2 separate regions of the Homo sapiens genome follow, and region 2 is linked to region 1. The links come from fine-mapping of genetic effects on gene expression. Tissue or cell type: whole blood. Region 1 holds a variant in brackets; the other region holds the start of a gene. All regions are shown on one strand. Distances are between the middles of the regions.

Evidence for each region. PIP is the estimated chance that this variant, and not a neighbour inherited with it, causes the effect.
Region 2: KLHL6 starts here. The variant in region 1 is fine-mapped to the expression of KLHL6 in whole blood (TOPMed, PIP 0.94).

What each region holds. Positions count from the first base shown.
Region 1 is chr3:183,501,294-183,511,558 of GRCh38, reverse strand. It overlaps KLHL6 (kelch like family member 6), which reads left to right. Exons shown (of 7, transcript NM_130446.4): 3 at 3,051-3,500. Among named protein-coding and RNA genes, the nearest start is that of KLHL6-AS1, 42 kb to the left of the region's middle. RefSeq lists an enhancer at 2,532-3,731. The variant C/T (reference allele first, on the strand shown) is at 5,244.
Region 2 is chr3:183,551,175-183,561,439 of GRCh38, reverse strand. KLHL6 (kelch like family member 6) reads left to right here and starts at 5,734. Exons shown (of 7, transcript NM_130446.4): 1 at 5,734-6,079. The coding sequence starts at 5,787. It overlaps KLHL6-AS1 (KLHL6 antisense RNA 1), which reads right to left. Exons shown (of 2, transcript NR_046687.1): 2 at 9,114-9,387. RefSeq lists silencers at 716-765, 8,705-8,874.

The DNA.
Region 1 (10,265 bases):
TGAAATATGGCCTCGTGGGATGGGAAAGACCTGACCATCCCCCAGCCCGACACCCGTGAAGGGTCTGTGCTGAGGAGGATTAGTAAAAGAGGAAAGTCCCTTGCAGTTGAGATAGAGGAAGGCCACTGTCTCCTGCCTGCCCCTGGGAACTGAATGTCTCAGTATAAAACCCGATTGTACATTTGTTCAGTTCTGAGATAGGAGAAAAACCGCCCTGTGGCGGGAGGCGAGACATGTTGGCAGCAATGCTGCTTTATTATTCTTTATTCCACTGAGATGTTTGGGTGGAGAGAAGCAAAAATCTGGCCTACGTGCACGTCCAGGCATAGTACCTCCCCTTGAACTTATTTGTGACACAGATTCCTTTGCTCACATGTTTTCTTGCTGACCTTCTCCCCACTATCACCCTGCTCTCCTACTGCATTCCTCTTATTGAGATAGTGAAAATAGTAATCAATAAATACTGAGGGAACTCAGAGACTGGTGCCGGTGAGGGTCCTCCGTATGCTGAGCGCTGGTCCCCTGGGCCCACTGTTCTTTCTCTGTACTTTGCCTCTGTGTCTTATTTCTTTTCTCAGTCTCTCGTCCCACCTGACGAGAAATACCCACAGGTGTAGAGGGGCTGGCCCCCTTCAGCATTGACCCTCGGAGAAATGCTTTATTTATTTATTTATTTATTTATTTTGAGATGGAGTTTTGCTCTTGTTGCCCGGGCTAGAGTGCAATGACACGATATCAGCTAACCGCAACCTCCGCCTCCCAGGTTCAAGCATTCTCCTGCTGCAGCCTCCTGAGTAGCTGGGATTACAGGCATGTGCCACCACGCCTGACTAATTTTGTATTTTTAGTAGAGACGGGGTATCTCCATGTTGGTCAGGCTGGTCTCCAACTCCTGATCTCAGGTGATCTGCATGCCTCGGCCTCCCAAAGTGCTGGGATTACAGGCGTGAGCCACCGCGCCCGGCCTAAAAAATGCTTTTTAAACTGACAATCCTATGTGATCTGACACAGAAAGATAATATTTTGCAATAGAGGTTGATCCAAAAAGTCAGGGATGTGTTCCCTGGAATGCTCTGGAGTAAAGTCCAGAGCCTAGGTCACCTTGGTCCACTCTTAGAACCAGTCCTGCCCCACTATCAACCTTCAGGCTCGATAGCCCCACTCCCCACAGCTCCTGCCAACCCTCCCCAGTCAGGTCTGTCCTGTCCCTACTCTCACCAGGACCTGCCTTCAGAAGGCCTCCCCCACCCCCACCAGGTCTTGCCCCCTCAGCCTCCCCTTTCCTCTCCCCCCATTAATCGATCAACCCATGGGCACCAAGAACTTGACCCTATAAGGAGTCCAGTAGACGGGGAAGGGAGCTAGGAGGTTGAAATTGTTCAAAGCTAAGCTCCAGAGAACAACAAATAAGAATGAACCAATGCATTTGAGACATGTCATCTGTAAAATGGATATTACAAAATATAATGGATATAACAGTGCTTTGTCATCTGTAAAGTGCCCTACAAGCACAAGGGACTTGAATTTTTATGAGGATGGTGATAACTTAAAAGTGGGACCTGAGAGCCAATCAATAATTTTACAAATTGATTTTTTAATGACAAAAGCGGTACGTATTCATTTTAAAGGATATATAAATAAATAAAACATATAAATAAACAAAAACAGAAAAATTCTCATAGTCTTCTTAGAGTGTCATACCTTCTATTATTTATATAGTATATTCCCTGTCCATCCCATGAGACCTGTTTCTGTGGGAGAACTATGGTTCCCTTGATGACAAATTTTGCCATGTGACTTACTCTGGACGGTTTTGTGTAAATGGATATAGCATGCGCCCCCTCTGAGCAGAAGCTTTAAAAGCCTCTGTGTGGTTCTGCCATCTTTTTCCCCTTCTGTCATGGGACCAGCATGTCTCAGGTAAGGGCTTTCCATCTTCCTGGCCCCTGGAATGAAGAGCCCCGTGAAGAACACATAGTGGGTAAGAGGAACATTTATTGTAAGCCCCTGAGACGTGAGGGTTGTTTGCTGCTGCAGCAGAATTTGCCTTAAGATACCTGATAACCCAAAGAGATAACAACCATTAATATTTTGACCTACATCCTTTCATCTTCTTTCTATGACTTTATTCTGTGTATGTTTTCTTTATAAAAATAAGGTCACAATGTACATATGATTTGTGACGTGCTTTTCTCATTTTATCTGCAAATATTTCACTTATAGCTCTAAAAAATAAGGATTCTTCTTCAACATAAACATGAAACCATTATGGCACCTAAAATGAATCATAATTGTTTCATTAGCACCAAATATTAGTCATTGTAAACATTTCTCCAACTTTAAAAAATATATATTGTTTAAATCAGGAATCCAAATAAGATCCATACTTTGCAATTGGTCAATGTGTCTTAAATCTCTGTTTATCTTTAGGTTCTCCCTCTCCTTCTCTCTCTCTTTTATCCCCTTGTAATGTATTTGTTGAAGAAACTGAACAAGTTGTTCAGTAGAGTTTTCCACAATCTGGATTTTGCTGATCATGTTCCCATGACGTCTTTAGCAGGTTCCTCTTTCCCTGTATTTCCTGTAAATTGCTGAGTAAATGTAGAGGCTTAATCAGATCCAATGAACAGATTTTAAAACTCAATACATTATGAACATTTTCTATTTCATTTAATATTTTCTACAACATGTGTTTTAAGTATCTACAGAGCTATCGACTGTATGAATGAATTATATGTATTTAGCTAGTCCCGTAAGTGTCTCATTGTTTTAAGTCGACTGTATGAATGAATTATATGTATTTAGCTCCTCCCGTAAGTATCTCATTGTTTTGTCGACTGTATGAATGAATTATATGTATTTAGCTCGTCCAGTAAGTATCTCATTGTTTTAAGTCTACTGTATGAATGAATTATATGTATTTAGCTCATCCTGTACTGTTGGACATTTAGGTTGTTTCCAATTTTTGGCTAATACACATAACTCACTGATAAACCTCCTTGTGGACTCACCATTTTCTGGCCTCCTTTCCACCCTTTCTATTTCATCAGTTCCTGCGGATGGTGGATGCCTGTGCCAGCTTCCTCACTGAAGCCTTGAACCCAGAAAACTGCGTTGGAATACTGAGGCTGGCTGACACACACTCGCTGGACAGTCTAAAGAAGCAGGTTCAGAGTTACATCATTCAAAACTTTGTGCAGATTCTGAACTCTGAGGAGTTTCTTGACCTGCCCGTGGACACTCTGCACCACATCTTGAAGAGTGATGACCTTTACGTGACCGAGGAGGCTCAGGTGTTTGAGACCGTGATGAGCTGGGTCCGGCACAAGCCATCAGAACGACTCTGCTTACTCCCCTATGTCCTCGAGAACGTGCGCTTACCGCTTCTGGACCCGTGGTACTTTGTGGAGACGGTGGAAGCAGATCCTCTCATCAGGCAGTGCCCAGAGGTCTTCCCGCTGCTCCAGGAAGCCAGGATGTACCACCTTTCTGGCAATGAGGTGAGTAGAAGATAAGAGGTGCTATATTTAACCAGCGAAGTAAGGAGTTAGCTAGGGGCTCACAGAGATGCAAGCAAAGCGGATTCAAAAATCCTTAGGGCATTAAGGAGAAAACACTGCCCTGTTCATTGCTGAGTCGGTCAGTTCCAGAAGCCCTGATTCCTGATCTATGAGGCCGATCCCACGTGTTCAGACAGTTACTGAGCGCGTTAGGTGAGATGTAGAAATCACCCAGCACCATGCCTGGCCCGTGCTTCCTCTTCCCAGTTGTGGAAGGGTGGGAGGTTGGGGGTCACACTGCACGCACAAACAAGAATGTGCCCTGGGCCGGGCCTGGTGGCTCACACCTGTAATCCCAGCAGTTTGGGAGGCCCAGGGCGGGTGGATCACGAGGTCAAGAGATCCAGACCATCCTGGCCAACATGGTGAAACCCTGTCTCTACTTAAAAATACAAAAAAATTAGGTGGGCATGGTGGCATGCACCTGTAGTCTCAGCTACTCGGGAGGCTGAGGCAGGAAGATCACTTGAACCCGGGAGGCAGAGGTTGTAGTGAGCCGAGATCACGCCACTGCACTCCAGCCTGGGCAACAGAGGGAGACTCTGTCTCAAAAAGCAAAGCAAAACAAAACAAACAAAAAACAAAAAAAACAAGAACGTGCCCTGTCTAGTCACTATTCCATGGGGGTGCTGCTCTTCCTTGCCCACTCTGGTGAAATCTTGTGTCTCTTGTATATACTCTGACATCACTTTGATTTAGACTCTCACCATCTGAATTTCTGGAAATTTCTCAAAACTCATCTTCCTCCCCCAAGTCTGGCCTCCCTCCAATTTATTCACCAGCTGAAAGATCTGAAACTCAAGTCTGATCATCTTGCTCCTGGGCTTGCCTTCTTCATTGGCTCCCCATCACTTTCAGAATAAAGCCCATACTTCCTGCCTACGTTCCCAGAGCCTGGTCTTGCATCATTAATCTCCTGCCTGCTTCTCTAGTGTCCTCTCCAACCTCCCACTTCTGCTCTAGTCCTAATGCACAGCTTGTGGTTCCCCAAAGTGGATGTGCTTTTTCTGCCTCCAGGTCAATCTGAATGTTGTTCAAATGCTTTTCTCTTCTTCATCTAGCTGACTTCTACTCCTACTTCAAAACTCAGTCCAAGCATCACTTTCTCCAGAGACTTCTCCTTTTATTTATTTATTTATTTATTTATTTATTTATTTATTTATTTATTTTTGAGAGGAGGTCTTGCTCTGTTGCCCAGGCTGGAGTACAGTGGTGCAATCATAGCTCACTGCAGCCTCGACCTCCCAGGCTTAAGTGATCCTCCCACCTCAGCCATCCAAGTAGCTGGGAGTACAGGCATGTGCTACCACACCCGGCTAATTTTTAAATATTTTGTAGAGACAAGGTCTCACTATGTTGCCCAGGCTGGTCTTGAACTCCTGAGCTTAAGTGATCTTCTCATCTCAGCCTCCCAAAGTGCTAGGGTTACAGGTGTGAGCCACCACACCCAGCCACTCTCCGTGTTCTCATAGCACTTGGTGCATTGCTCCATCACAGCACCAACTGCTGCATGGCAATGATTTGAATTTATTATATGTAAATATCTCTAGACTGGGAGCTTGTTATAGTAGGAAATATGTCTTATTGCACTTTACATCTCTAGATCTTAGAAGAGAGTCCTGAGACTGCTATATAGTGAATGAGTAATTAGTAAATGCTTGTTGAATGATTAAATGGGTACTA[C/T]GAACGGTGAATAAACATGTCATTTGGATCTACCTGGTTCTCCTTAACAATTCCTGAAGAAGATTTTTCTTCAGAACTTTATAAAGACAAGAACAAATTTAGTGGAGAGGAAGTAATGATATAGGGACAGTTTGTTAACAGTTTGTACACATGAACACCCATACATATATCTCACTATGCAGTGGTTCTGGGATTAGCTACCAGGCTTTCTTCATTAGGCCATTGGTAGAAGCCTTAGCCAAACGTGGCCCAGGAATTGTCTGTCTGAGGTTCTTTTAGAGTTTCTCCCTTTTTCTGTGTGTTCTTTTCTAGTTTTTTTGTTGTCCTTAGATCCACTGTTCATTCATTCACTCTGCAAACATACCCTTAAATGTTTAGTAGAATTTACCAGAGCCTGGTGTTTTCTTTGTGGAAAGTTTTTAAACTATAATGTATATCTCTTTAATAGATATAGGACTATTTAGGATCTCTGTTTCTTCTAGAATGAATTTTGATAGTTTGTGTCTCAAAGAATTTTTTCATTTAATATAAGTTGCTGAATTTATTGGCATAAAGTTGTTCACAGCATTCCTTTATTATCTTGTTAATACCTGCAGAATCTATAGTGTTGTCACATCTCTCATTCCAGATATTGGTAATTTGTGTCTGCCCTTTTTTTTTTTCCTGATCAATCTGGTTAGAGGCTTATCAATTTTATTGATTTTTCTCAAATAACTAATGTCTAGTTTCATTTGATTTTCTCTATTGTTTTTCTGTTTTCTATTTCACCTATTTCCACTCTGATCATTATTTTCTTTCTTTCTGCTTAGTTTGGGTTTAATTTGCACTTATTTCTGTAGTTTCTTAAGGTGGAAGTGGAGGCCACTGATTTGAGACTTTCTTTCTAATATTGGCTTTCATGCTATAAATTTCCCCCTAAAAACTACTTAAACAGCATCCCATGTATTTAAGCACGCTATGCCTTCATTTTTTGCAAATAAATCCTGAACACCAATTCCTTGCCAGATATGGCACCAGGTACTGCAAAAACAGTCTGTGTCTTACCCAGGTACTGCTAAACAGTCTGTGTGTCAGAGAAGATGGGACATTTAACAAATGAAGGGTGATGAGTGGATTGATGGGGGGAGCCTAGGAAACCACATAGGTCCTATTCTATGCTGGATGTCTAGCAGACAGCCTGCATATAATTGCAGACAGGTTTCAGTCTCCGTAACTGCCCTCAGTTCAGCATTTATTCAGTGTCTCCCATGGAATACTACACAGCCATAGAAAAGAATGCAATCATGTTTTTTGCAGCAACATGGATGGAGCTGGAGGCCATTATCCTAAGTGAACTGACACAGGAACAGAAAACCAAATAATGCATGTTTTCACTTATAAGTGAGAGCTAAACATTGAGTACACATGAACACAAAGAAGGGAACAAAAGATACCAGGGCCTACTTGAGGGTAGAGGATGAGAAGAAGGTGAGGACTGAAAAACTACCTATCAGGTACTATGCTTATGTATGATTTCATCATACGGATGATGAAATAATCTGTACACCAAACCCCCACAACACACAATTTACCTATATAACAAATCTGCACATGCTGAACCTAAAAGTTAAAATAAATAGCACTTTAAAACAATTTAAACATATACTGTGCCTTGATCAACTATACTTCCAATATTTTTGCTATTTTTGTTTCTGCTTCCTATTTTCTAAGTCCTTGAAATGCAGATGATAAAGATTTTCTCTGATATAAAAGGTCCCTACCCTGTCTTCTGCAAAATTGCTGCAATGAAATATTTTTATTGCCTTTTGTATTTCCGAGGTGCTGGGGGCAGAGTCAGACATTATAAGCTTTAGATTTAGGAGGAGAGAGAATTCTGACATCTGGAAAATTCTTCAGTGGTGAGAACCTGGGCTTGGAGTCAGGCAGAGATCTGGGTGTTAATCTTGACTCCACAATTTATTTACAGTGTAATCTCAGGCAGTTACTTAGCTATGCTAAGGCTCAGTTCTGATCTGTAACATGGGGGTAATAATACCTACCAACTGATAGAACTGTCTTGAGAGTTAAGTAATGAATGGAACGCTTAGCACAGTGTCTGGTACAAGCTAAGTGCCCCACAAATGGAAGCTGTTGCCATTGCCACTTGGTTCGTTTATTGTTGCTCCATCTCTCACAATCAATCATTTTCCTTCTCTGGGGTTAAAACCAGTCTTTTCACTGTGTCTCAGGTTTTTGTGGCCTTATTTTCCCAAATCCTTCTCAAGGCACTTTCTCATCTTCATTTTATAGTTTGGACAACTGAACCAACCAACCAGCCACCATGACCTCCTAATTGGGGTCTCATTGCCAGTTGATTCCCTGAGTCAGTCTGCTCCCTGCTGGAATGGTCTTGGGTTGACTCCTGATGACAGTAGTGTGAGCCTGGAGGCTACTCTGTGAACACATTTCTCCCCGTACCCTTCATTTACCAAACTTTAACCCTCTTGTCCTATCATCATCTTTCCCATTTTTGTTTTATTTTGTTTTGTTTTTTCTTCAGACAGACTTTTGTTCTTGTTGCCCAGGCTGGAGTGCAATGGTGCGATCTCGGCTCACTGCAACCTCTGCCTCCCAGGTTCAAGAGATTCTCCTGCCTCAGCCTCCTGAGTAGATGGGATTACAGGCATGTGCCACCACCCCTGGCTAAGTTTGTATTTTTAATAGAGACGGGGTTCCTCCATGTTGGTCAGGCTGGTCTCAAACTCCCAACCTCAGGTGATCTGCCTGCCTCGACCTCCCAAAGTGCTGGGATTACAGGTGTGAGCCACCGTGCCCAGCCCATCTTTCTCTTCTAACCTTGCCCATCCTCTAAACTGGTGTTAACAACAGGAAATTTTAGAACACACCAAAAGCAAATGTCAGTCTCCATTTGATTTGGGAATGGTAGCTGGAACCTTCATTGAAAGAGAACTTTGGGGACAGAGGAAATTTGCCTCTTCATTTAACTGCCTCTTAAGTTTTCAGACATGAACCTGATCTATACCAAACATTACTCTGACATGTGTGATGTGGGGAAAGGGGAGCAGAGGCTCCAGCCCAAGGACAGCTTTGCTGAAACAATATGCTCACTCTGTCCCCTAGTATAAGATCTGTGGACAGTGAGCAGTCATTAAGGTGCAATTATCTGCTCTGTTTTTAACAATCTGAAAATAAACTGGTTATGCCTGATTGTTGCATGCAATTCATTGGCAAACACTTCCATATGTCTGCAACAAAGTGGCACGTCTCAGACTTCAGATTGACATTTGTCATGGCTTTGGGGTTAGTATTTTGCCAAATGTAGCTGAACTTACAATGTGGTAATGATGCCACCACTCGGCAGCTCCGTGGTGCTGAATTATAAGACAGGTCTCATTACCCTAGCCAAGCCCATCAGCTAGATGATTGTGTTAGTTCTCAATTGCTGCATAACAAATTACCCCCAAACTGAAAACTTTAAAATAACAAACACTTACTATCTAACAGGCTCTGAGTGTCAGAATGTAGGAGTGGTTTAGCTGGGTGCTTCTGGCTCAGGGTCTCTTATGAAGTTGCAGTAAAGCTCTTGGCTGGGGCTGCAGTAATCTCAAAGTTCATTATGAGATTCAAGCTCACACTTACTGTACTGTTGGCAGGCATCAGATCCTTGCTGGCTGCTGGTTGGGAGCCTCAGTTTCTTGCCATATGGGCATCTCTATATCAGCTGACCTCCCCCAGAGCAAATGACCTAAGAAAGACTGAGAGAGCAATCAGGATGCAAGCTGGTAGTGCCTTTTATAGCCTAATTTCAGAAGTGATGTATCATCACTTCTGCTGTAATCTGTTGGTCATAGAGACCAATTCTAGAACAGCATGGAGGGAACTACACAGATGTGAATACCAGGAAGCAGGGATCACTGGGGCCATCGTGGATGCTCACTACCACAATGATTTAGACTGAGTTACCTAGCTTGCCCATTCATTCACTCATCCATTCACTCATTTTTTTTTTTTTTGAGATGGAGTTTCGCTCTTGTTGCCCAGGCTGGAGTGCAATGCTGCGACGTTGGCTCACTGCACCCTCTGCCTCTTAGATTCAAGTGATTCTCCTGCCTCAGCCTCCCGAGTAGCTAGGATTACAGGTGCCTGCCACCACACCTTGCTAATTTTTTTATTTTCTTTTTTATTTTTAGTAGAGACTGGGTTTCACCTTGTTGGCCAGGCTGATCTCGAACTCCTGACCTCAGGTGATCCACCTGCCTCGACCTCCCAAAGTGCTGGGATTGCAGGCGTGAGCCACTGCACCCAGCTCACTCGCTCATTTAATCAATGTTTATAGATGCCCACAAGCTCCAGGTACTATTCTTGGTGCTGAGGATCCACTGGAGAAAAAGGGCTGTTCCTGCCATCAGGGGCCTTACGGTAAATTACAATGAAGCATGAAAAGGGCCGTTGTGGGGGAAATTCAGGGTTATGAGAATGTGTGCAAAGTTAGGAATGGCTTCCTGGAGAAAAGGGCAAAGTGACATGGTAAATTACTCACAGTGCCTTAAAGGGTAAGTGGATTGGGGTGGTAGCATGGGAAATTGAGAATAGAATATTATGGGGAGATCCAGGCAGCAGGCAGGGACCCAGGAAATTTAGCCAGCAGGAGGAGAGCCTTTCGTAGGTCAGGACCAAGGAACGAGGTGCCAGCCCTGGGGGTCAGGAGGTAAGATCACGGCTAGTCCAGTCCTCCTAGCAGCCTCTCAATCACCCAACAGGTTACTGGGTCAGGAGAGCAAGCATTGCAGATAAGACGAGGGGAGCTTCGGAGTGGAGGCTGAGGCCTGGTTCCCGGAAGTGAAGAAAGGGTCATAAGGGAATGAATTCAGGGAGGCCGGTGCTTTTTTCTAAGCATTGCCCTGAAACACCTAGATCCCCTCCGAAAGAGGACCACATAGATTAGTGCTGGTGGCTGTGCCTCAGCTGTGGGGAAGGTGGTTTAGGGACAGGAACCAGGGCTGACACCTGAAGAGAAAGTTG
Region 2 (10,265 bases), 50 kb before region 1:
AATACCTGGCTTTCCTAAGTTCAGGTCCGCAGCGGACATGTCAGGGTAACGCCTAGGGACCAGGCTGGGTGGTCCTGAATAGAAAGTTAAAAAATTATAACTCATATATGACAAGCCTTTTATTACGTTGACTAGAAACATTATGCTATGGAAAGCGTGTGTTGTACGCAGAATTTGTAAGAGGAAATAAAGCCTTAATGCCGCTCTTTTAAAAAGAATCCCCTCTGGATGAAATTATAAAACACTTGGCTCTGGGTTCTGCTTTGTTCTTGGATTTTGATATTTGGGCTCACCACTTCCATCAGGCTTGTCTTTCTCCTCCGGCAACTTCCCAACTTCCTGTTTGGGATTCAGGCAGACCCCGTGTCATTGTTTTGGATGAAGGCATCTATCTTTCGTTATTATTATGACGGGATGTGGTTGGCAAGAGGAGTTGGCCTGAGGAGCCCAGGGCCAGGCATTTGATGAGCAGGAGCCTGGGAGCACTGGGCACCCTTGAATCAGGCGGAGGAAGAGGCCAGGCCAGCGGCGTCTGCGGGAGGCCGCGATTGGGAGAGGCCGGCACACTCTACCTGGGAGCTGAGGATACTCAGAGGAACCCTGACCTGAGGTAAAAGCTGCAGCTTCTCTGTTTTCTGGGCCCTCAGGTATTAACTGGAACCAGAAAGAGGCCACAAGATGGCAGGCAAAGCTGGTCTTGTCTGAGGCATGGGTGGATATTTCATTTGCCTCACACTTATCAGGAAGACGTGAAGTCCTGAGTGTGCTCCTTCAGCATGGGGTGGGGTGTCAGGCGCTGGCTCAGGAGCTGGAAGTCTGGAACTGCAGTCCCATTCAGCTACTAACTAGCAAAGTGCTGGCATCAATGCATGTTGACTATTATTGTTATGGTTGTTATTACCTTTGTGTTGTCAAATAAAACATGGAAAATGATACAAACAAATGTATAGCTTAGTGAATTATTATAAGGCACACAATACTGTTGTAAACACCACTAAGGTCAAGAAATTGAACTTTGCCAACTACCCCAAATCTCTTTCACGTGTCCCTACCCAAACACAGCCCGGTGAAGGGACATGTTTGGTGTGTTCCATCCAGGTTTTGGCTTGGGATGTATTTAGTTGGAGGATGCCTCAAATGTTAGACCCTCAAGTGTAGATGTTAAGTAAGCAGTTGGATACCAATGTTTATCTAGTTATTGTAGCACAGAGCCTAGAGATAATCCAAGTTATCCAAGCCTGGAGATTATCCAAGTTATCTCTAAGCTTTGTGCTGTGATAATTAGATAAATATTGGCTTACTATTTGTTGAAACATCATTACAACCATCAGAAACATTAAGAAAAGATGTCTATTTCCCAGAACACAAAGAACAGGCAAAGATATATTAGGAAAAGTAAATGAAAAGAAAGCAGGAGTGGCAATAGAAACTCCAGACAAATCAGAAAATTATTTAAAGAAAAAAATTAACAGGATAAACAGGGATATTTAATACTAATAAAAGGTACAATCAATAGCAAGGATATAACAACACCGTACTTTGAACAGAGATTTAGAGCATTAAAATATATAAAGCAGAAGAGAGTGACTAGGGAGTAAGGTTTGATATCTATGTATAGGAGAAAGGTCACAGAAGCTGGGGATAGGGTATGGCATGGAATCTGTGTTGACCCTACCTCTTTCAGTGAGGCCCTCTTAGCTAAGCAGGAGGCCACCAGTGGGGCCAAGTGGGAGTCCTGGAGCCCAGCTCTGACATATGCAAAAATCTTAGACCCTCTTGAATTCCCACCTTTCTCCTCCTACCCTCCTGTCCTGTCTTACCTCAGTCTCCTTCATTCACCTGGCTTCATCTCTGCTTCACCTTGACACTGAAGTCTAAGGGCAGATTCAGTTTAACTAACTGGACCCTCCATAGTTTTTTTTTTTTTTTTTTTTGAGACGGAGTCTCACTCTGTCACCCAGGCTGGAGTACAGTGGCGCGACCTCGCCTCACTGCAAGCTCTGCCTCCTGGGTTCACACCATTCTCCTGCCTCAGCCTCCCAAGTAGCTGGGACTATAGGCGCCCGCCACTACACCCGCCTAATTTTTTGTATTTTTAGTAGAGATGGGGTTTCACCGTGTTAGCCAGGATGGTCTCGATCTCCTGACCTCGTGATCTGCCCGTCTCGGCCTCCCAAAGTGCTGGGATTATAGGCGTGAGCCACCGTCGCCAGCCGACCCTCCATAGTTCCATTGAACACAGCTTAACATATGACTTTTTTTTGCTTTTTTGTTTTGTTTGTTTGTTTGTTGAGACAAGGTCTCCGCTCTGTTGCCCAGGCTGGAATGCAGTGGTGAGAACATGGCTAACTGCAGCCTCCACCTCCTGGGCTCAAGCAATCCTCCCGCCTCAGCCTTCCAAGTAGCTGGGACTACAGATGCATGCCACCATATATGACTAATTTTTTTATTTATATTTTTTGTAGAGATGGGGTTTTGTCATGTTGCCCAGGCTGGTCTGGAACTTCTTGGCTCAAGCAATTTTCTTGCATTGGCCTCCCAAAGTGCTGGGATTACAGGCGTGAGCCACCACACCTGGCCCAAGCATATAACTTTTGGAAGCTGACCTTGGCCGCCTGCCAGGTCTCAATTTAAATTCATGACTATTAATCTTAAAAAGGGCGAGAAAGGAAAGATTAGGTCAGATCAGAAAGTAAAAATTTGCCCTCCCATTCATCAGGCTAGGAAGTCAGACACAGATGAAACATTAAAAAGAAACAACGTTTCTTCAAAGATTAGGTCAGATCGGAAAGTAAAAAATCTGCCCTCCCATTCATCAGGCTAGGAAGTCAGACACAGATGAAACGTTAAAAAGAAATAACGTTTCCTTAAGTGACTCCTTGCAATTATAAATGTGTCATAAGGATACCCTTCGTGGGTGACTACTTATTCTTACTGAGAAAAATTGTTTTCTAAAAATCACAGACCATCAGAAACTTTGTTGTTTGCCATTGTGTCAGTAAGAATGAGATCTCATAGTTGTCTGGAAGATCTAAATCACTTTGACACTGGGAAGCAGTCTCAATTTCCAACTCAGATACGGGGCTTCTGAATACAACATTCCACATCTATCTCAATTTTGTAGTTTCCAGGGAGAAAAGACTTTGGGTCCACTGTAAAGTCTAGACTTAATGTTTATCCTTTTACAGATAGTCCCACTGTGCTTTGAACCTATCTTGATACTGTTCATTTACATTTAACCTAAACTTGGGGCAGGTGCGGTGGTGTGAGCCTGTAGTCCCAGCACTTTGGGAGGCCGAGACGGGTGGATCGCTTGAGCCCAGCAGTTCAAGACCAGCCTGGCCAACATGGCAAAACCCTGTCTCCACTAAAGATACAAAAAATTAGCCAGGTGTGGTGGTGCATGCGTGTAGTCCCAGCTACTTGGGAGGCTGAGGCAGGAGAATCGCTTGAACCTGGGAAGCGGAGGTCGCAGTGAGCTGAGATCGCACCACTGTACTCTAGCCTGGGCAACAGAGTAAGACTCCGTCTCAAAAACAAACAAACAAACAAACCTAAACTCCAAATTTTCTTGTAATTTTTATTAGAGTAAAATAAACCTATAAATGTATTCGGAAAGAATTGGTCCTTTTAATAATATTTAGTCTTTCCATAAAGGAACTTGGTATATTTATTTAAGTTTTCTTTCGAAACTCTTAGTAAAGTTTGTTAGTTTTCTTTATGTTGCTGGTTGCTGTTATTGCTAGGCATTTACATATGTTTTATTACCATTGTGAATGGCATTATTTTTCCATGACTTTTTTTTTTTTTTTGAGGCAGAGTTTCGCTCTTATTGCCCAGGCTGGAGTGCAATGGCACAATCTCAGCTCACTGCAACCTCCACCTCCCGGGTTCAAGCGATTCTCCTTCCTCAGCCTCCCAAGTAGCTGGGATTACAGGTGTACGCCACCGCGACTGGCTAATTTTTGTATTTTTAGTAGAGATGGGGGTTTCACCATGTTGCTCAGGCTGGTCTTGAGCTCCTGACCTTGTGATCCCCCTGCCTTGGTCTCCCAAAGTGCTGGGATTACAGGCATGAGCCACCACGCCCGGCCGTCAGGTTTCTTTATATGCTCCATTATAATCTTTTGGGACCACAATTGTATATTCAGTCCATCATCGATTGAAATGTCATTGTGCTGGGCATGACTGTACTTGTGACCGTTAATTTTAGATGTCAAGTTTACTGGGCTAAGAAATACCTAGCAACCTGTTAAAGCATTACCATGGGGCGTGTCTGTGAGGTTGTTTCCAGGAGAGATTAGTGAGTCTGAGTGGACTCGGTAGAGAAGATACACTCTCAGTGTGGGTGGGCACCATCCAATCAGCCAGGGGCCCAGAGAAAACAAAAACAGAAGAAAGGTCGATGTCTCTATCTCCTGAGGCTGGGATACAGTCATCTCCTGCCTTGAACAACAGGACTCCAGGATCCCCTGCCTTTGGACTTCAGGACTTACACCAGTCTCCCCACCCCCTGGATTCTCAGGCCTTTGGCTTTGGACTGAGAGTTATACCATCTTCTCTGGTTCTGAGGCCTTTGGACTTGAACTGAGCTCTCAGCAGTCTGTCATGCGACTTCTCAGTCTCCATAATCACGTGAGCCAATTCCCCTAATAATTTCCCTCTGCTATGCCTCTCTAGGTATCCTTTTGGTTCTGTCTCTCTGGAGTCCATCATCGACTGAAATATCATTATGCTGGGTATGACTGTAATTGTAATGGTTAATTTTAGATGTCAAGTTTGCTGGGCTAAGAAATACCTAGCAACCTGGTAAAGCATTACTGTTGGGCGTGAGAGAACGCTAACTGATACGCTCCTATAACTTCCCCAGGATATCATGGGATTTTAATAATGACAGTTATTACTACTTAACTGAGACATGCAGAGGTAATGAAAATACTTCAGGATCCACCGTTAGATGCACGGTCAGTAGATGTTGGGCTAATCTGAGACGTGCTATGGCAATTCGGTGTAGACCCACCCTGACTCATCCTCTGAGAAGATGCTGTTGATGGAGTTTTGGAAACCATTTCTTCTGTGCCCCCAAAGCATATTCGAAACAATAGACATTTTTTTTGGTGGGGGAAGACATGAAAGTTTGCCATGACGTTGTTTTCCCCTGGGTAGGGAGGAGGATGAAGATAGACGATCTGCAGTGCCGCCAGAAATGAGAATGTCAGGGATAAGTGGGGTTTCCATGGTTTACAAAGCACGGTTGTTGGATCATTGTGGGGTCTCAGACTCCTGGGAGGAGGAAGTGGGAGGATCATAGACTGTCTCCTGTCCATCCCCTCGCTGACGACTTGGGTTATTGAGCCACTAGGAGTACAAATGTGAAGCAGGAGGATTATAGACTGTCTCCTGTCCATCCCCTCATTGACGACTTGGGTTATTGATAGCATTAGGAGTACAAATGTAACAGCCACCACCGGAGGCTTCCTGCTCACGGATATGAGGTGGGAGATGCACCAAAATAAACACACAGCACTCACAGTGGACTCTGAGAGGACACTCCTCTTCCAGAACCCCCTCCCACACACCTATTCTAAGTAATTTCTAACCCTGTGATTACTCACAGAAAGAAGAAGAATAGAAGTTGCTGGCATTTGTAGTAACAGGATGAGAAAGTGCGAGACTTCCTGTTATGTGTGTGTGACAGCTGGTGATAAGTGGAGGGCCCTGCACAGGAAATCCGCTCAGCTCCTGCAATGGGGCCTGCCTGACACTTGGGCGCTCCTTCAGTCTCGATGTTGATGGCAGGACAAAGGGGCGCCTGGACCATGGGTGATGTGGTCGAGAAGAGTTTGGAAGGGCCCCTGGCACCTTCTACAGATGAGCCCTCCCAGAAAACAGGAGACTTGGTCGAGATCTTAAATGGGGAAAAGGTCAAATTTGACGACGCGGGACTCTCCTTAATTCTTCAGAATGGCCTGGAAACCCTGCGAATGGAAAACGCTCTGACAGATGTCATCTTGTGTGTGGACATTCAGGAATTCTCCTGCCACCGCGTGGTGCTTGCCGCAGCCAGCAACTATTTCAGGTCAGCATGCCTAGGACCAGAGTCAAATTGGGTGCAAGTTGCAAGGAAGAGGTGTGTTAGTGTGAGAGCCCAATCTTGAACAGTTGGCCATGATATTTATGGTTTACATATATATTAAGGCTTGTGTGTCTACTTAAAATATAAGAAAGGACACTATCACACTTTATTTTATTATTTATTTATTTATTTATTTTTGAGACGGAGTTTTGCTTTTGTTGCCCAGGCTGGAGTGCAATGGCGCAATCTCGGTTCACCGCAACCTCTGCCTCCTGGGTTCAAGCGATTCTCCTGCCTCAGCCTCCCGAGTAGCTGGGATTTGCAGGCATGCACCACAACACCCGGATAATTTTGTATTTTCAATAGAGATGGGGTTTCTCCATGTTGGTCAGGTTGGTCTTGAACTCCCGACCTCAGGTGATCCACCCGCCTCCGCCTCCCAAAGTGCTGGCATTACAGGTGTGAGACGCTGCGCCCGGCTTATCACACTTTAAATTTTAGGATTTAGGCCACATTAAAAGAGAGATTGGCATCATTTAAAAGCAATGCTTACATTCTATAGTAAACCTTTTGTGTATATTTCCTTGTTCCAAAGGATGGAAAATTACTGAAGTCATGGGGACTTTTTTCCCCCTTGGTCTGACTGGTGTTGGAAACATAATGTTGTCTTTGTTAATCAACAGACATAGAGAAAAAGGATGTGGCCCCTCTTCTGGAGTTGTCAAATGACTTGTTACAAATTAGGGGCTTCTTTATGTGTAGGCAGTGTGGGGAAAGGGAAAGCAGTTACAAAGATGCTTTAGATGGGAGAGGCCTCTAGTTACGATAAACTGGTGATCTCATAGTGGGAAGGCCTGAAGTCAGGAGACTTGGTTCCTTCTTGACAGTGAAACTTTAGGCAAGTCACAAAGTGCTCTGAATGTCTGTTTCATCATCTGTAAGGTGAGCACAATGATGATCACCTTTCAGGGCTGTCATAATTAAACAAGAGCGTGAAAAGGGTCCTACACAGTGTCTAGCATATAGTAAGTAGATGCTCAATATATCTTTCTTGGAATTCTTTTTCTGATTCTGCTTGATTCAGCTAAGGATGACTTATTGAGTGTTTCCCATGAGCACGTCCCTGGGGTAGGAATTTTATAGCGCTGGGAACCCAGTGAATACACCTGATCCAGTGTTCTCCATATCAGCATGGACATGGGGGAACCAGCCTGCAAGGGCAATGTGGATAATGAAGAAAGTATTTGGGAACTTGAAAAGAAATACCCTTAGAATTCTTCTTAATGAGATTCTTCTTAACTCTTGATTCTGGCTGAGGAAATTGAAAACGATTAACCTATGAAAGTATTATGGAAAGCGTTTTCTTTCTTTCTTTTTTTTTTTTTTGAGGTGCTTGGGGGGAAACGTTTCTTTGTAATTCATAGAGCAGGATCAGCAGGTTGCTGTGGGACTCATTAGGTCTCCTGTGTTGATAAGACAAGGGGATATCTGGGTTTGAGGGAAGCAGTGGCTGCTGTGTGCCAGACAGACATAGTTATCTGATTTTATTTTTGTAACAGCATGATGAAGGTGGCTGATATTTCACAGATGAGGAAATGAAAACTCAGCATTATATATCTGGTCATTGCTGGAGCAGGGACTGGGTATGTTCTGGAAATCCTTGTTACTGCAATGCAAGCTGCCACTAGGTCTGGGACTTCATTCCATGGGAAGTGTGTAAAATATAAAGTGTAAACACAGCCATCAAAATGGGTTGATATAAACACATTACTTTCTCCACCAACCTTGATCACGTGCTTTCACGTTGACTGCAGCCCCTCTCAGGAGTGAGTGAAGTCAAGTTAGCTCAATGCCCTGGGGACGCACATTTAGGTTGATCCTTTTGTATCCCTTGCTATCATAAAATGCATACCTGGAAGCAGTTTTGTTAGCGGGTTGGCCTGGCTGTGGACCAGGCCCGCTGGCTGTGTGCCCTCGAGTTGATCACTGGTCTTCTCTGGTTCTTGGGTTTCTCATCCTAAATGGGAATTTGGGCTTGGGTCCTTCCAGCCCTGCTGATCCAGGATACTTAGGGAAAGTCTCTGCCGGTCGTCAGAGGAGGCAACGGCAATGAGAAGCTGGAGAACATGAGGGTGAAGGCATCTGACTGTGTATACAGAGCCTCTCCCAAAACTGCCTGGTCATGAGAGGAAATTCCTTCAATTCTTCTCTTCAGAGAAGTGACTTTTGCTTCTTCTCTTGGGATTTTCAACGTGACTTTCCTTCTACAATGAATACTGTCCTGGAGACAGGATTCTTTCTTCCGGTGCTACTATTCCTATCAACTCCTGTTTGTGGAGCGCTTACTGTGGGCCAGGCCCTGTAGCTTCTGTATCACATACTCTAGTCCACTCCACCCTCACAACAACCTGACAAGGCAGGGAGTCCTATCCCCAGCCTACCGACGGTGAGCCAAAGTCCAGAGTGTCACAGCAAATAAAAAGTAGCCAAGCTGGGATTTAGACCTAGGACTGACGTTAAATCTGACACACTCTCTCGCTTTGTGTCTGAGGTTTTGAAAGGGGTTCTTCGTATGCTCAGGTTTAGGGAGGTCAAAGAGTCTCTCTGTCTGAGAGGCTTTCTTTTTTTTTTTTTTTTTTTTTTTTTGAGACGGAGTCTCGCTCTGTCGCCCAGGCTGGAGTGCAGTGGCACAATCTCTGCTCACTGCAAACTCCGCCTCCAGGGTTCAGGCCATTCTCCTGCCTCAGCCCCCTGAGTAGCTGGGACTACAGGCACCTGCCACCACGCCCGGCTAATTTTTTGTATTTTTAGTAGAGACGGGGTTTCACTGTGTTAGCCAGGATGGTCTCCATCTCCTGACCTCGAGATCCACCCGCCTCGGCCTCCCAAAGTGCTGGGATTACAGGCGTGAGCCACCGCGCCCGACCAGTCTGTGAGGCTTTCAACACAGCTCTCTGTGTTTTGGAGGGCCTGGAAGCTGGTTATAAAATTATGTCATTTTTTTCCTTTATTCACTGAGAAAATAATTACTTTCCACTAAGGGACTGACAATAGTTTATTAAACAGTCCCCTACGGACAGACATCTGGACTATTTCTAATCCACATTTTGCTATTACAAACAATGTTGTAATGAATAACCTGAAACATGAGTTTTTTTCATATGCATTTCTTGAAGGGGGTTTGCTGAGTCAAATGCATCTGCAGTCTTAGCGGTTATTGCAACTTCTCTTTCATTGGGGTTGAATCATGTTGCGTTCCCCCACGGCATCACCAAAAGAGGGTGTCATCCAACCGCTGAAGTTTTACCAATCTGATAAATGAGAAAGAATATCTCAATTTAGCTTTAATTTGCATTTTTCTTATTTTTAGTAAGATCAAACATCTCTTCGTATGTTTAAGGGGCATCTGCAGTTCTTTTTTTGTTGAACTGTCTCTTCACTGCCTTTCTGTTTTTCATGTATTTTTTTAAAATTAAATTTTATTTTTTATTAAAGATATGCAAATAGTAAACAAAGCGTTAAATAGTATTTAAAGGCTTATAATGAAAAAACAAAAATTCCTATTTCCTCCTCCACCCTGTCTCATGCGCCAAAGGCTACCACTTTCAACTTCTATTTGTTTCTTCTGGCACTAGCTCTATATTTCTGCAAAATACACTTATACTGCTCTTTCTTGATTTTTCAGTGTTAGACATCATTCACTGATTTCAAATAAGGATTTAGTATCCTTACCTAACCTCTTACCATAAGCTTTCCTTCCCTGTAATCTTTCAACATAATGTTATCACAACAAGAGTTTACATTATTATGTTCACGAAAACCTTGTTCTCTGTTGAGCCAAATTACTCAATGATCACGTTTCTTTTCTTGTAAACCTTTTGTCTTTCCTGAAGTTATTAATTCACTCATTTTTTCATTTGCTTTGTTTTGGGGTGTCTTTTGCTCACAGGCTCACAAAAATCTTTCATATGGTCCAATGCATCAAACAATCTACCAGTTCCATTTCCTCAGAATCCTCCTGCCTTGCATCATGTTACACATGTTCCCTGGATTTGCACGCTGGCTGGGATTCACCTGCTTCTCCATCATTCCCCGGGACTGTCTGCTATGTTGAATGGAGCCTTCTCCCTTCAACCCCTATCTTTCTCTTCCCTGGTTTACCATCTTACCCTGATAAGCACATTCTCCA